Homo sapiens: one gene and its partner. Each later gene encodes a partner of the first gene's protein in a complex. Each region holds a gene or a part of one and is shown on either strand. Other genes may lie near its edges. A codon is read from its position in the direction of its gene.

What was found.
Region 2: the proteins of PLEKHM2 (region 1) and ARL8B are in contact, whole or in part, in a crystal structure (PDB 8JCA), measured with the Homo sapiens proteins. Residues at the interface, in NP_055979.2 of Homo sapiens: His70 (codon at 1,445), Phe71 (codon at 1,448), Thr72 (codon at 1,451), Arg73 (codon at 1,454), Arg74 (codon at 1,457), Glu75 (codon at 1,460), Glu103 (codon at 2,620), Ser105 (codon at 2,626), Glu107 (codon at 2,632), Ser108 (codon at 2,635), Tyr109 (codon at 2,638), Arg111 (codon at 2,644), Leu112 (codon at 2,647), Glu115 (codon at 2,656), Glu147 (codon at 3,297), Phe148 (codon at 3,300); in NP_060654.1 of Homo sapiens: Glu22, Thr52, Val53, Gly54, Phe55, Asn56, Met57, Lys68, Trp70, Arg77, Phe78, Arg84, Tyr85, Arg87, Gly88, Val89.

What each region holds. Positions count from the first base shown.
Region 1 is NC_000001.11:15,715,303-15,722,327, forward strand, and holds part of PLEKHM2 (pleckstrin homology domain-containing family M member 2), read left to right. Parts: intron 1-934; coding exon 935-1,041; intron 1,042-1,404; coding exon 1,405-1,514; intron 1,515-2,590; coding exon 2,591-2,690; intron 2,691-3,235; coding exon 3,236-3,323; intron 3,324-4,431; coding exon 4,432-4,618; intron 4,619-5,034; exon of another isoform or gene 5,035-5,142; coding exon of another isoform or gene 5,143-5,185; intron 5,186-6,026; coding exon 6,027-6,086; intron 6,087-7,025. UniProt on the Homo sapiens protein: Plays a role in lysosomes movement and localization at the cell periphery acting as an effector of ARL8B.
Region 2 is NC_000003.12:5,174,292-5,181,316, forward strand, and holds the end of ARL8B (ADP-ribosylation factor-like protein 8B), read left to right. Parts: intron 1-52; coding exon 53-123; intron 124-4,372; coding exon 4,373-4,422; 3' UTR 4,423-6,620; downstream 6,621-7,025. UniProt on the Homo sapiens protein: Small GTPase which cycles between active GTP-bound and inactive GDP-bound states.

The sequences.
Region 1 (7,025 bases):
TCACACCACTGCACTCCAGCCTGCATGACAGAGTGAGACCCTGTCTCAAAACAAACAGGCCGGGCACAGTGGCTCACGCCTGTAATCGCAGCACTTTGGGAGGCCAAAGTGGGTGGATCACCTGAGGTCAGGAGCTTGAGACCAGCCTGGCCAACATGGCGAAACCTCGTCTCTACTAAAGATAAAAAATTAGCTGGGCATGGTGGTGGGCACCTGTAATCCCAGCTACTCGGGAGGCTGAGGCAGGAGAATCACTTGAACCCAGGAGGCGGAGGCTGCAGTGAGCCGAGATCATGCCACTGCCCTCCAGCCTGGGCGACAGAACAAGACTTTGTCTCAATAAAACAAACAACCAAAAAGAAAAGAAAAAAGATACTTTTCTAATATATGACTGGGAAAAATGGGAAACTATAAAGGAAAAGATGGACAGATTTGACTGCCTAAAAATTAAAACTTTCTCAATAGGGCAAAACAATAACATAAGCAAAGTTTAAAGGTCTGTTGACAATGGGAGGAAAATACGTCTAGCGCTCTCTGTATCAATGCCCCAACTCTGGGTTTGTGTGGCATTGGTCTAGACAGCACTGTACATAGTGCCCCTGAAGTTGTGCCATGCTGTGGCCCTGGCCTGAAGCTTGCCACCACTTGAGACCTATGCATGGACAGTGGATCCCTCCAGCCTCAAGTTGTCACTGTGCGGACTGCTGACTGGGTGCCTCTGGGGGACTGGGCTGTAAAGATACAGCTGTTGCCTGCTGGAACCTCCAGTGCCAGAGCAGCAGCTGGGACAGGGGTGGTTTGAGGTAGACGTCTCTGCTGGTCATTGTGGATACACCATTTGACTAATTTTTTTTAGCTACCTTCTTGATTCCAGAACTTTTGTAGCCTTCCTCTTAATCCATTTCTGATTTGGAGGTGTTTTTTTTTCTTTCAGTTGCAGAGCTATTTTGCTGCATGTGAGGATGAGATCCCTGCCATCCGGAACCATGACAAGGTCCTACAGCGTCTGTGTGAGCACCTGGACCACGCCCTGCTGTACGGGTAAGGTGGAGGAAGTTTCCAAAGATGACGGAGCACAACCCAGGCCATGAGTAGCCTCCACAGAGAAACCCTTAGCCTCTCTGCCTTTTCTTTCTTCTCTCCCCTTGGCAGAAAGGGATTTGTCCCACTCAAGTGGGCCACAGTCTCTCTGTAGTTACCCCAGTAAATCATCTCTGGGCAGACATAAATGATGGAGGGAGGATTTGCCACAAATGATATGATGGTGTGAAGGTGTGCTGGGTGCCTGGGAGACCTGCTGGGGATCCATCACTTCCTGCCTTGCGCTCACTGCTGGACCAGCCGACTGCAGCTTCCCAGGGTGGCCCCATGCAGGTCACAGCAGCTCCTGTCCTGTTTTCTCAGACTGCAAGACCTCTCCTCTGGCTACTGGGTGCTCGTGGTGCATTTTACTCGGAGAGAGGCCATCAAGCAGATCGAGGTGCTGCAGCACGTGGCCACCAACCTGGGGCGCAGTGAGTAGTCACAAGGAGACGCTGGGGAAGGGACCAGCTCCACCTTCGGTGGGTAGCTTGGGGCTCTGTCCCAGGTTTACCCTCAGGGTCAGCCCTGGGAGGCAAATTACCTGGTGGTGTCCAGTAGCAGTGGGGTGTTAAAATGCCAGCACCAGGCCAGGCATGGTGGCTCACACCTGTAATCCCAGCATTTTGGGAGGCTGAGGAGGGAGGATGGCTTGAGGCCAGGAGTTTAGACCAGCCTGGGCAACACAGTGAGACCCCATCTCTACAAAAATTTAAATATTACATGGATGTCTTGGTACACACCTATAGTCCCAGCTACTCAGGGGCTGAGGTGGGAGGATGGCTTGAGCCCCGGAGTTTGAGGCTGCAGTGAGGCATGACCACAGCATTGCACTCCAGCCTGGAAGAAAGAGTGAGACCCCATCTCTAAAGATTTAGGAAAATGGCCGGGCACAGTGGCTCATGCCTGTAATTCCAACACTTTGGGAGGGTAAGGCAGGAGGATCCCTTGAGCCCAGGAATTTAAGGCTGTATTGAGCTGTGATCACACCACTATACTCCAGCCTGGGTGACAGAGTCTCTGTCTCAAAAAATAAAATAATAGTAATAAATAATAAATTTATAAAATGCCAGCCCCCTCCATGAGGCCTCTTTTCTCCCCACATATGATGGTTTTTTGGCACAGCAGTGATGGGGAGAAAGAGGGCGAGCTGCCAGCGAGAGCTGGACTCTTATGGAATCCCAGCCTGAGCACGTGCTATGGAGTCTGGTTTCTCTCCCTGAGCTGGGATCACTGTTAGCCTACAGGATCAGTGCAGAGTCCTGGCGTTTCTTGACCTGTCTGAAGTGTGCAGTCTGCCCTCTTTATCAGAATTTCCTGGCCAGCTACATGCTGAGGTCTGACTAGGAAAATAAAGCACTCAGGGGTTATGGTACCCCACCAAGCACAAAGGCCACTGAAGTGCCTGGTCCCATTACCTGCTCTTTCTTTCCTTTCTGCGCTTGCTTGGCAAATAAAAGCCAGCAGTCTGAGAGGCCTTCCTGCCGGTTACTCCTGCCTTTGTTTGCAGGCCGTGCCTGGCTGTACCTGGCCCTCAACGAGAACTCCTTGGAGAGCTACCTGCGGTTGTTCCAGGAGAACCTGGGCCTGCTGCATAAGTACTACGTCAAGTGAGTGTCTGGGACGGTCTGTCTCCCCTAGCCTCAGAGCTCCCTTTCAGCTACCTCCCAAAGGCTCTTGTCATGCAGACAGCACAGTGTGCCACATCAGTGATGCCAGAGAGCCATTAGAACCTTGCCAGTAGCTGGGTAGCCTTCACCAGGAGCACCGGTGTCCCATCTGGGCTCCTGGGTACAGTCTGGGTCTCTGCTGCTCCCTGGTCCTCCTCCCAGGCTTCAGACCTGACCAGTGCCCATGCTTTGGCTCAGCCTTTGCTGGGGTTGCTGCAGGAACAGAGTGTGTACAGCAGCTGCTGAGAGCCTGACAAGCCTTGTGCTCGTCCATCTCTGAAGACACTGGCAGGACAGTGCAGTGTGGCTGCTAACCCAGTAGGAGATCGCTGAGAGGGTGGTGGGCAACAGCTATATCAAGCTGGGTGCCGTCCAAGGTGGAGGACATCACGTGTCAGATTTCAACACAGCTGGTATGTTGGTAAGGTTAGGCCAGGCTGGTAAACAGACCCAGAGGCACCATCGTGGCTTCTCATGTCTTGCAGGAATGCCCTGGTCTGCAGCCACGATCACCTGACGCTCTTCCTGACCTTGGTGTCCGGGCTAGAGTTCATTCGTTTCGAGCTGGATCTGGTGAGACACCAGGGCTCTCACTGCTTGTGGGAAGCAGAGGAGGGGGCAGGGTGGGGGCAGGGTGGGCGGTGGCTTCATTTCTCAGGTCTTGTTGAGGGAGCTTGTTGAGTATGACTGGGCTTGAGCAAAACTTGTTTTTTTGGGCGAGGGAAAGGTTTCAGGGTCCATCGAATTGAGTGAGAAGAGAAGTGATGGCAAGAATTCCTGGTTCAGGTGACTTTTTCCTATCTCCCTATCCAACTTGGAGAAAAGCCACATTGCCTGGAGTATCTTAGCCCAGAAGAACTGGCCTTCATGTTTAGGATGTGAAGAGTTAGAAGGACAAGGCAGTTTCAGCCTGGTGCTTCTGGGGTTCTGAAAAGTGTCATCAGCTCCATGAAGAGCCTTCAGCCACCCTCTTCAAGTTCTCAAGTTTCTCTCCCCATCACACCCTGTACAAATGGGATGCTGGCCCACATAGAGCCAAAGAGGCTCCCAGGCACCTCTTGGACTGGGCTCAAAATGGATGCAGCTGCCCCGTCCTAATCAAATGACCTTCCTTGGGCCAGGCGCAGTGGCTCACACCTATAATCCCAGCACTTTGGGAGGCTGAGGTGGGTGGATCACCTGAGGTCAGGAGTTCGAGACCAGCCTGGCCAACATGGCGAAACCTCGTCTCTACTAAAAAAATACAAAAGTTAGCGGGGTGTGGTGATGGGCGCCTATAATCTCAGCTACTTGGGAGGCTGAGGCAGGAGAATCGCTCGAACCCGGGAGGTGGAAGTTGCAGTGAGCCGAGCCACGTCATTGCACTCCAGCCAGGGCAACAGAGTGAGACTCTGTCTCAAAAAAAAAAATAAATAAATAGAGAGAGAGAGAGATAGCGGGGGCATCAAAGGGTGTAGCTGAGTTCTGACAGCTCTGTCTTCCATCAGCCTGAAGTCCACAGCTTTAAAAGCCAACACTATTCACATTGCTCTTCTTAGCAGCTTTTCTTTGAATTTACTACCTTAAGCCATTGATTTCCCAAAGAGGCACATCTGTGTCTCCCAGGCCTGGATCCTGCTGTCTGCAGAAGGCCGCTGCACGAGGCCTCCCACCAAACGGGCCTCCTCTACTCTCTCCTCAGGATGCCCCTTACCTAGACCTGGCCCCCTACATGCCCGACTACTACAAACCTCAGTACCTGCTGGACTTTGAAGACCGCCTTCCCAGCTCGGTCCACGGCTCAGACAGTCTGTCCCTCAACTCTTTCAACTCCGTCACCTCCACCAACCTGGAGTGGGATGACAGTGCGATTGCCCCATCTAGTGAGGGTGAGTGGCCCCAGGGCAGAAAAGCTAAGCCCCTGTTGTGAAACAGACTTGAACTGCTTAAGCCTGGCTGGGTGATGTCTTCCTTGGCTAGTTTTGGTCTGGTGGCTGAAATTTGCAATTAAACAGGGCTGGCCATTTCCCAGATCTTCATCTCCTCAGAGTCCCTGTGGTGGCTAAAAAGTGGATTCTGGGCACAAAAAGCTGAAATTATATATATATATATATATATAAAATATATATTTTTTAAGGTTAGACCCTTTTCCAGAAGGTTCTAGTCACATGCCTGTGGCAGTTTTCTAAGCAAGGAAGGTTTAGCAGTGGGACCTGGAAACCTTGTCGCAGGGTTGAGTGTTGCCTGTTCTGGGGAGCTTGTCTGACCCCACATTCTTTGCAGAAGGAGGTTAAGCAACCCCTAGAAGAAGAGAGAACCAGGCAGGTCTGAAGCGCAGGGAAACCTTGCCACTGTGTCCTGTGTGTCCGTCCGATTTCTCTGAGTTCCTTCTGCGCTCGCTGATGTGTTTGGGATGGTCGCACCCTTTGCATCAGGGACCGAGGAAGAAGCTGCAGGTCATTTTGTTGTCTTGACCCAATGATTTACTGGAACAGCCTGGTTTCTTTCAAACCTTAGGCCCTGGTGTTCATGGATAAAACTGGCCATTTTCCCCTCTTTATCTCCTGTAGGAGACCAGAGCCCTTCATTTACTTCACCCCACCACCTCACCTCCAGGGAAGGGGATCCCAGCCCCAATTTAGCCCTGGGGCACCCTAGAATTGCCTCAGCATTGAGACCTTGACCTTCCCCTTTCTTTATTTCTGCTGTACCACGGGTTATATGTCCCAGGAAGGGAGGTCCCTCTCAAACTTGCTGTTAGCAAGACCTGCATTGCTGACCGTGCAAGCTGAAGAAGGCGGCACAGTCTCCTTAGGTTGGGCCCATGGGCCACCTTAGAGGAGTTGGAGGGGTGGGCCTTGCCGGAAGAGCCAGGGCAAGGATGGATCCATGGATGGAGGTGTCCCCTCAGCAATTTGGAGATTGTGCAACTGCAGCTGCCAGGGCAGTGTCTCCTTGCCCTGCTAGGGTATGGAGGGAAGGCACGTAAGAGGTAGAAAACAAAGCTAGGCACAGGCAGCCAGGCTTCTCTCTGCCAGAACCAGCTTCTGGATGTGGAAAGGGGTCACCCTGACAGGTCTTTCCAGCTGGTTGGAGGCTCCTGGGCCAGCGCCTGAGCTGAGAGGCAGTCAGGGCCCTAGTAAGTTTCCCCAAGGTTGTTGGATACAATGTAGAAAGTTGAAGTTTTCCTCTCCTATTTTCTCCCCATGTCTCCCACCCCATTTCCCCTCCCCTCCCTCCAGTCATCCTTCCACTGCCTGTGTTTCTAATCTTCAGTTTTGTCCCTCGTTTTTGTAGATTATGATTTTGGAGATGTGTTTCCAGCAGTGCCGTCTGTACCCAGCACAGACTGGGAAGGTGGGCCAGAGTCCGCTGTTACCCTCTTTTCCTGTTTTGCAATGTTTCCATGCCAAGCTTGCTGCATGTATCAAATCAGCTCCTTATTATTTATAATAATATCCATAATCATAATAAAGCCAAGTTTGGTGTTCTAATAGATGGAATTCTGCAGTGGGAAAACTCAACCTCTAGCCATAGGCAAATCCCTTCTCCCAGTGCAGGGCTCCTGCCTTTGCTCAGTGGCCTTTCGGAGTCACTAAGTGGCTGCATTTCGGGGGATACAGGGTCACCCTTCCTGATTCCAGTGCCAGCTGATGCTCTCGGGGTGTGTAGGGCCTGACCCAGTGAACCAAGACTTGTTCTGGAAAACCATGCCTTTAAACATGCGGGTTGTAAGCTCCTGCGGGTCAGATGAGCATCGAAGAGAAAGAGCTTGATTCTTTCAGTCTGTTCCTAATGGCTTCCTCTTGGGTGTTTTGGAGTGGTTGAGGTCCAAGTCAGGAAACTGCCCAGGTACAGCTGAAACTTCCTACAGACAGAATCTCTTTGAAGCTTTAAAGCAGATTAAAAGGAAATCTGCCAGCCCTCCCACCCTGTCTGCTGGGCAGTAGCAGTGCCTGGGCATTTTTCTGCCTGAAATTCCACTTCATAAATTCACAAAGCTATTCCCAGGTTGCCACGATTACTCAAAGCAAAGGCTATGTTGCCAATAAGGTGAATGTTTCCCCCTTAAATCTGAGGCCATAGCAGATCCCTGTTATTTTACTTTATGTTATTTTATTTTACTTTTTGAGACGGAGTCTCGCTCTGTTGCTCAGGCTGGAGTGCAGTGGTGTGATCTTGGCTTACTGTAACCTCCACCTCCCGGGTTCAAGCAATTCTCCTGCCTCAGCCTCCCAAGTAGCTGGGATTACAGGTGTGTGCCACCACGCCCGGCTAATTTTTGTATTTTTAGTA
Region 2 (7,025 bases), on another chromosome or scaffold:
AAGTATGACAGCTGTTCTAAGCACAGACTTATCCTTTTAATTCTTCTCATAGGAATCTGTCTGCTATTCAGGATAGAGAAATTTGCTGCTATTCAATTTCTTGCAAAGAAAAGGATAATATAGGTAAGAAATGACTGGTAATTTTGGAAGAAATGGGTATCATTGGAAGGAATGTCTATGCTTCTTACAGCTTATTGTCTCGATTTCTCATTAAGTGACTTCCTTTTCAGAATACTGTTGCTTTTGCCTGAGAAAAAAGAATAGACATACCTTTTGACAACAAATATAGTGAACCTTCACTTAACATCATTGATGGCTTCTTTGAAATTGCAATGTTATCTCTCTCTCTCTCATACAAATATATATATAATATAATATATGTAATATGTATTATATATTATATGTAATATATATGTAATATGTATTATATATTATATGTAATATATATGTAATATATAATATATATAAATATATATTATATATAACATAAATATATATATATAAATAATATTATATGTATATGTATTTTTTGAGACAGTGTCACTCCTTCACCCAGGCTTGAGTGCAGTGGCGTGATCTCGACTTACTGCAACCTCTGCCTCCTGGGTTAAAGCGATTCTTGTGCCTCAGCCTCCTGAGTAGCTGGGACTACAGACGTGCACCACCACGCCCGGCTAATTTTTGTATTTTCAGTAGCGACAGGGTTTCCATGTTGCCCAAGCTGGTCTTGAACTCCTGACCTCAAATGATCCAACTGCCTCGGCCCCCCAAAGTGTTGGGATTACAGGTGTGAGCCCGGCCTATATGTTATCAAACTCTTGAACAGCAAAAAATTTTTTAAAAAGAGGAAATTGCACTTTTAAGCGAAATGACATACAGTAGGCCCTCATTTCGTTCAGCGTTACAATGTTAATGAGAAAAAAATAGTTTTGTTATACACCATTTCACTTAAAGTGGCAGTTTCCAAGAACCTATCAGTGATGTTAAGTGAGGACTGAATGTATAACATCCTGAATCTTCTTTGTGCTATTTAAAGAAGAAAATGCAATAAAGTCGTGAGGTTAAGATTATGTGATACCAATTTATTGTGTTAATTTTTGCAGAGCTAGTATCCCGCTGTGCTTTATAACAAAATGGCATTTTTGAAATAAGACTTTACAAAAATTAGTCTACAGGCACTACAACAATTTTTCAGTTATTGAACCAGTATATTACTGCAATATGTTAGCACTCTATTGGAATTATATGCCCAAAATACCCTTCATTTACTCAATGCCCATATTAACTTCTTAGAACTGCCATAACAAAGTACCACAAACAAGGTGGCTTAGAACAGCAGAAACTTAAGTCATTCAAAATTCTAGAGGCTGGAAGTCCAAAATCAAGTTGTCAGCAGGGTCGTGTTCTCTCTGAAGGCTGTAGAAGATCCCTCCTTGCCTCTCTCTAGCTTGTGGTGGTTGCCAGCAATCCTTGGCATTCCTTCACTTGTAGATATACCACTCCAGTCTCTGCCTCACATTCATGCTTCTCCCCTGTAGTTGTCTCTGTGTCAGTGTATTATGTTTTCCTAAGGACGCAAGTCACTGGATTAGGTAGGGCCCACCTAATCCAGTATGACCTTATCTTAACTAATAACTTGCAGAGACCCTATTTCCAGTAAAAGTCACATTCTGAGGTTCTGGATGGACATGACTTTTTAGGGGGACATTAAACATTCTAGCATAGTATGGTTACAGAATAAGTATGTATGGCTCAACTTTAGTTTCTTAACTAATTTGGTTTGAGATGATTTGATAAATGAATGTATTGGAACAAAATGTAATAAATAGTACCAGAATAGTATATCTATAAAGTTTATGCTGATATTTTTTCTTTAGCTTTTGTATTCCAGTCTATCCTTCCCTAACTCACCTTCCACCCCGCCTGCAAACATGGCTTTATTTATTTTTATTTTTTTAAGATGGAGTCTCACTCTGTCGCCGTGGCTGGAGTGCAGTGGCAAGATCTTAGCTCACAGCAACCTCCACTTCCCGGGTTCAAGTGATTCTTGTGCCTCAGCCTCCTGAGTAGCTGGGATTACAGTTGCCCACTACCACGCCTGGCTAATTTTTGTATTTTTAGTAGAGACAGGGTTTCATCATGTTGGCCATGCTGGTCTTGAACTCCTGACCTCAGGTGATGCACCTGCCTCAGCCTCCCAAAGTGCTTAGATTGACAGGCATGAGCCACCACGCCCAGCCACAAATATGCTTTATTCAGTTTAAAGTGTGGATAGTCGTTCTGGCTAATTTTGGGCTTCCTTTAAAGACCATCCAGGGCAGTCTCAGCCTTAGTAACAGCGGATAGACACAAATTTTCCTTTATAAATGGATAGAATAATTCACTTGTTACATTGGGAGCATTTATTTGAGAACAGACTCCTCAAGCACTTGTGGTTACTTAGACTTTATTTAAAAGTTTTTTCTCTATGTGGCGGGGAAAACTCTTTTTAAAATTTAAGATATGCCCCATGAGAGCATTTATTTCTACATCAGTGGTTCTCAATGGGGAGCTTTTCCCCCAGGAGACTTGACAATGTCTGGAGACATTTTTGGTTGTCATAACTAGGAGGGTGATGCTGGCATTTAGTGGGTAGATACCAGAAATGTAGCTAAACATACTATAACCTCCACAGCAAAGAATTATCCAGCATAAAATGTCAGTTGTGGCAAGGTTGAGAAATCCTGTTCTACACTAACCGTAATTTTTAGTCCATTGTGCTATTTTGTAAATCCATTACTCCCTACATGTTTTCTGTTTTTCCATTGTTACAAACTAGTTGGATACTTCCTGAAAAAAAAACAAAATCTCTTGGGCTCATATATGGAAGTGCAGTAGAGCTGTGAGGACTTCTTTCGCTATTTGAGGCTGATCTTTATAGTTGGCTAAATAGCTCAGTAGTAATTTTAGAACTCCTGGCTCACTTAAAAGGTTGTCAAGCCCAAGGAATCTGATCCAGTCTAATAAGATCCACTCTAATAAAATTCGAAATAAGTATTTTGTAGATCAGTTCATCTGAGTATCTTATTTCTGTTGTCTTTTTGCCTATTCATAAAGATCCATTTGTCTTTAGGATATGAACTTCTATCAGTATCCACAGAGGCTTTGTGTAATTTTTTAGTGAATTTCTTTTTTTTTTTTTTTGAGATGGAGTTTCACTCTTGTGGCCCAGCTGGAGTGCAGTGGCGCAATTTTGGCTCACTGCAACCTCCGCCTCCTGGGTTCAAGTGATCTCCTGCCTCAGCCTCCCGAGTAGCTGGGATTACAGGCGCCCGCTGCCGTGCTCGGCTAATTTTTGTATTTTTAGTAGAGATGGGGTTTCACCATGTTGGCCAGGCTGGTCTCAAACTGCTGACCTCAGGTGATCACCTGCCTCGGCCTCCCAAAGTGTGGGATTACAGGTGTGAGCCACCGTGCCCGGCCATGAATTTCTTAAATATTTAAATTTGGTTATTTCACTTCAGATTTACCTTTCTCCCATTCAGTTCCAATGAGTGTGGCTTTGCTCGTATTGTGCACTGTTGTCCCCATTTTAAGGTGCAGAGGTGCTTCTTCAGTAGTTGGGTTAAATCATTGCTTCCACAATGGTGAACAGTTCATGTTTGTTATAGCTCAGCCCTGTGGTGTTTCGTTAATGCATGTTAGCTGGGAAACTGGTAGTGAATTTACCCTCATCTTTCAGGCTTGGAGAATAGAGTGGTGCTTCTGATAGACTCTCATGTACCCTTCTGAAGAAGTGAGGACAAGAATTACCCAGCCCCAGATGTCAAAAGGGCATGGTGTGAACCCTGCACCAGCCTTGGCAGTGACAGCCTCCTCTCCCATCCCTGTGCTTTAGTCACATTGTATCACTCACAATCCATCCAGAGCTCCACAATGTTTCATGCCTTTTAACATTCTTTTGCTGTTTTTTTTTTTTAACCTGGAGTTCTGTGGGGTGGCCCCCAAGCCCCGGGAATTACTGCATCTTTTCTGTGTATTATACTTAAAAGCGCCTTGAGGGCAAACAGGGGTTATTCCTTTTTTTTTTTTTTTTTTTTTGCCTTCCTGGCAATTTGCATGCAACACCTGATTGATTGTGTGGGCAACACATAAAAGGTGGCACCAGCCGTCCTATACACAACTTAATTTTTAAATCAGAAAACGCTTCAGTCTCTGATAATTCCTCATATTCTCTTGAAGTTCGGGTAATGGAGTATGGTAATGCAGATGCAGAAAAGCAGCAGAGGTCAGGCATAGTGTGTGCCTTGAATTAGCTGCCTTTTAAATATTGTCTCTGTTTGATGTTTAGTTTTTTAACTTTAATGTCTTCACTTTTCCCCTCTATCTTTAGATATCACACTTCAGTGGCTTATTCAGCATTCAAAATCTAGAAGAAGCTGAAGCATCTCCTGAAGTCTTCCAGTCCTTCTTGGCTATAATCCTAGAATTATTGTCCGTTCCTCTGAAGTAATTCCCAGAATACGGTCCTTCCTAAACCCCAGAAATTGCCTTTTTCAGAGTTTATTTCTCATGTGCACTGCTGAAGATGAATATCCCTAATCCTTCATAAAGAATCAGCTAGAGTTGTCATGATAAAGTCAGCACACACAAAAAGGCTTCTTACACATACCTGTCTTAAACCATGTGTAGAGCTTTAAAAACAGAAAAAAAACCCCATATACTTATGACCATCTTAAATCAAGAAAATTGCATATTTCCATTCTGGTCTTTCTGGGCCAGATTTTTATATTGGTTTTCAGTAAATGTCTATCTATAATATTTCATTATAGAGTCCAGTAGCTTAATACTGACACTGACTTGATACAGCATGAAGTTTCTAGTGCCACACACAGTATTTAGAAAACCTTTAGGCGTGAATGACTCATGTGGGATATATGTAAACATAATGTTTATTTTATCTCACAAATGCATGTGAAATGTATAATTACATCTTAGGAATCCAAAATGGTCTGCAGAGAGTGAGCGGAGGCACCAGATCAATGTTGGTTCTTTGCACTGGTGAGATTCTGCCTGATGAATATTAAAGATATCCTGCTTTCTGAGAACTCTATCACCAGATGGCAGTTGGGATATGGGAGGAACTAAAGCATCCTGTTTTGTATCTGTCCAGATCATTATTTCTGTCTCTTGTTTTTTCTTCCTGGTTCAGGATACTTTTTTAAGGGGTTGAGAATTGAAGATTTTCCAAAAGCGTTCATGAATTTAGAGCATTCCACCCAATATAATAAAACCTGTTAAGAATGTCAGTCTTTGTTCAAACATCTGTTTGTTCTATCTCCAGTCATTAAATCAGTGCTGCTGCATGACACTCTTAACTCCTGACTTTTTATATCCAGTCATAAAGTTGACTTTCAGCACAAAAGATACTTATAAACAAATAAAAAATTTTTATTTTTCTCTCTTACTGATGTAAGCTTTGGCACTCTTTTGACTGGTGCCATTAGACATCTTGATTATTGTGACAACTCTAGACCTGCCTGCTTTATCTAATGTAATCATGCTCAATGTCTACAGGTTGTTTAATAATCAGTCACACAGAGAACTGAGGAACTGATGCTGTTTGTTTGCTTCTATGATACAGAGATGTCTAAAAACTTCAAATGGACATGTTTTGTAGTTTAGCGACTTCCGTATACATAAAGGGACATATTAATACTGGTTCATTTGTAAATTATTATTCATATAGACCACTGTAGTAGATAAAACTCTATGGTACACCTGCTTATGTGTTGCCTCACACTGTGTGTGATTTTGTTTCTTTTGTTAAGCAGCACTTATGTAGACTGCATTTCCAAATGTGTTGAGCACTCAGAGTGTAGTCAACAGTAAGTTCTTTTAATGAATATCAGTTTTAATTTATAGACTGCCATGGCCTTAAAAATATTCTGTACAATATACTGCACTGTGTTGCACAGACACTACTTGCTTTTCTCCATTCATATTTTTATGAGTAGAATCTGGGCTTTTAAATTTCTCTTCTTATTCTTTGAAGCATGTTGCATACTACCCTGGTGGGATGGATGGTTCTGTAAATGAAGGGATATTTAAACTTGCTACTGTTGTTCAACACCATTAATGGTCAGTGTGAACCATTACAAAGAATGTGGCAACTTGCTTGTGCCTAAAAGGAGGAATTGGAACTAGAATGTGTGACTCTGTGGGGACTGCATAGGTTTGTTAATTGACCTATAGCTAAACCTTAATGTGTTTGTGTGTCTATACATTGCTTTCCGCATTTCAAGACATCCAGACGCTATTACCAACATTTTCCTGTGCATTAACCTCTGCATGTGAAAACTTTTAACAGTTACTGAACTATGTAAATATGTGAATTTTTTTATTTAGGTGGATGCATTTTTTGTCTGTTTACTGCTCTTCTCAGCTTTATTCAATAAACTTGCATTTTAAGGGTTGTATTGGCAATTTTAACTTAAAATGTGCATCATGATGGAAGGTGCAGACTTTTTTGGAAGTTTCCGAGAGGAGGGTCTATAGACCATTTGTCAGAAATCAGATCAGCCCTCAAAGAATGGGGTCTGTGGGCTAGTTAAAATAGAAATAAACTTTTAAAATATCCACAGAATTGATATTGTGATTTTTTGGGGGCGGGGGAAATGCTACTACTTGTCAACGGTCACAATACACCAAATTTAGGACTTTAAGTGGCAAGTGCTAGTAAAACATTTTATGTCCCAGTTTTTACAAATCAAACCAAGACCCTGCTAAGCAAATGAAGTTGCAAGACATGCCTATTCACTGACTTCAGTTCAGAATGGAAATATTTTAAGTACCGAACATGCTGGTTTTCCCACAAAGGCACATTTTTAGCATAAAGCTTTTTGCTAGTTTGGTATCATCTGCCCATAAAATAAGTCAATACTTGAGCTATTGGAAAAATAATTGTGTATATTTTTATTTGTTTAGAAAGGTTCAGTTAGCATTTTCTCCATACGCATACTACAATTCTGTACAGCCAACCCTTA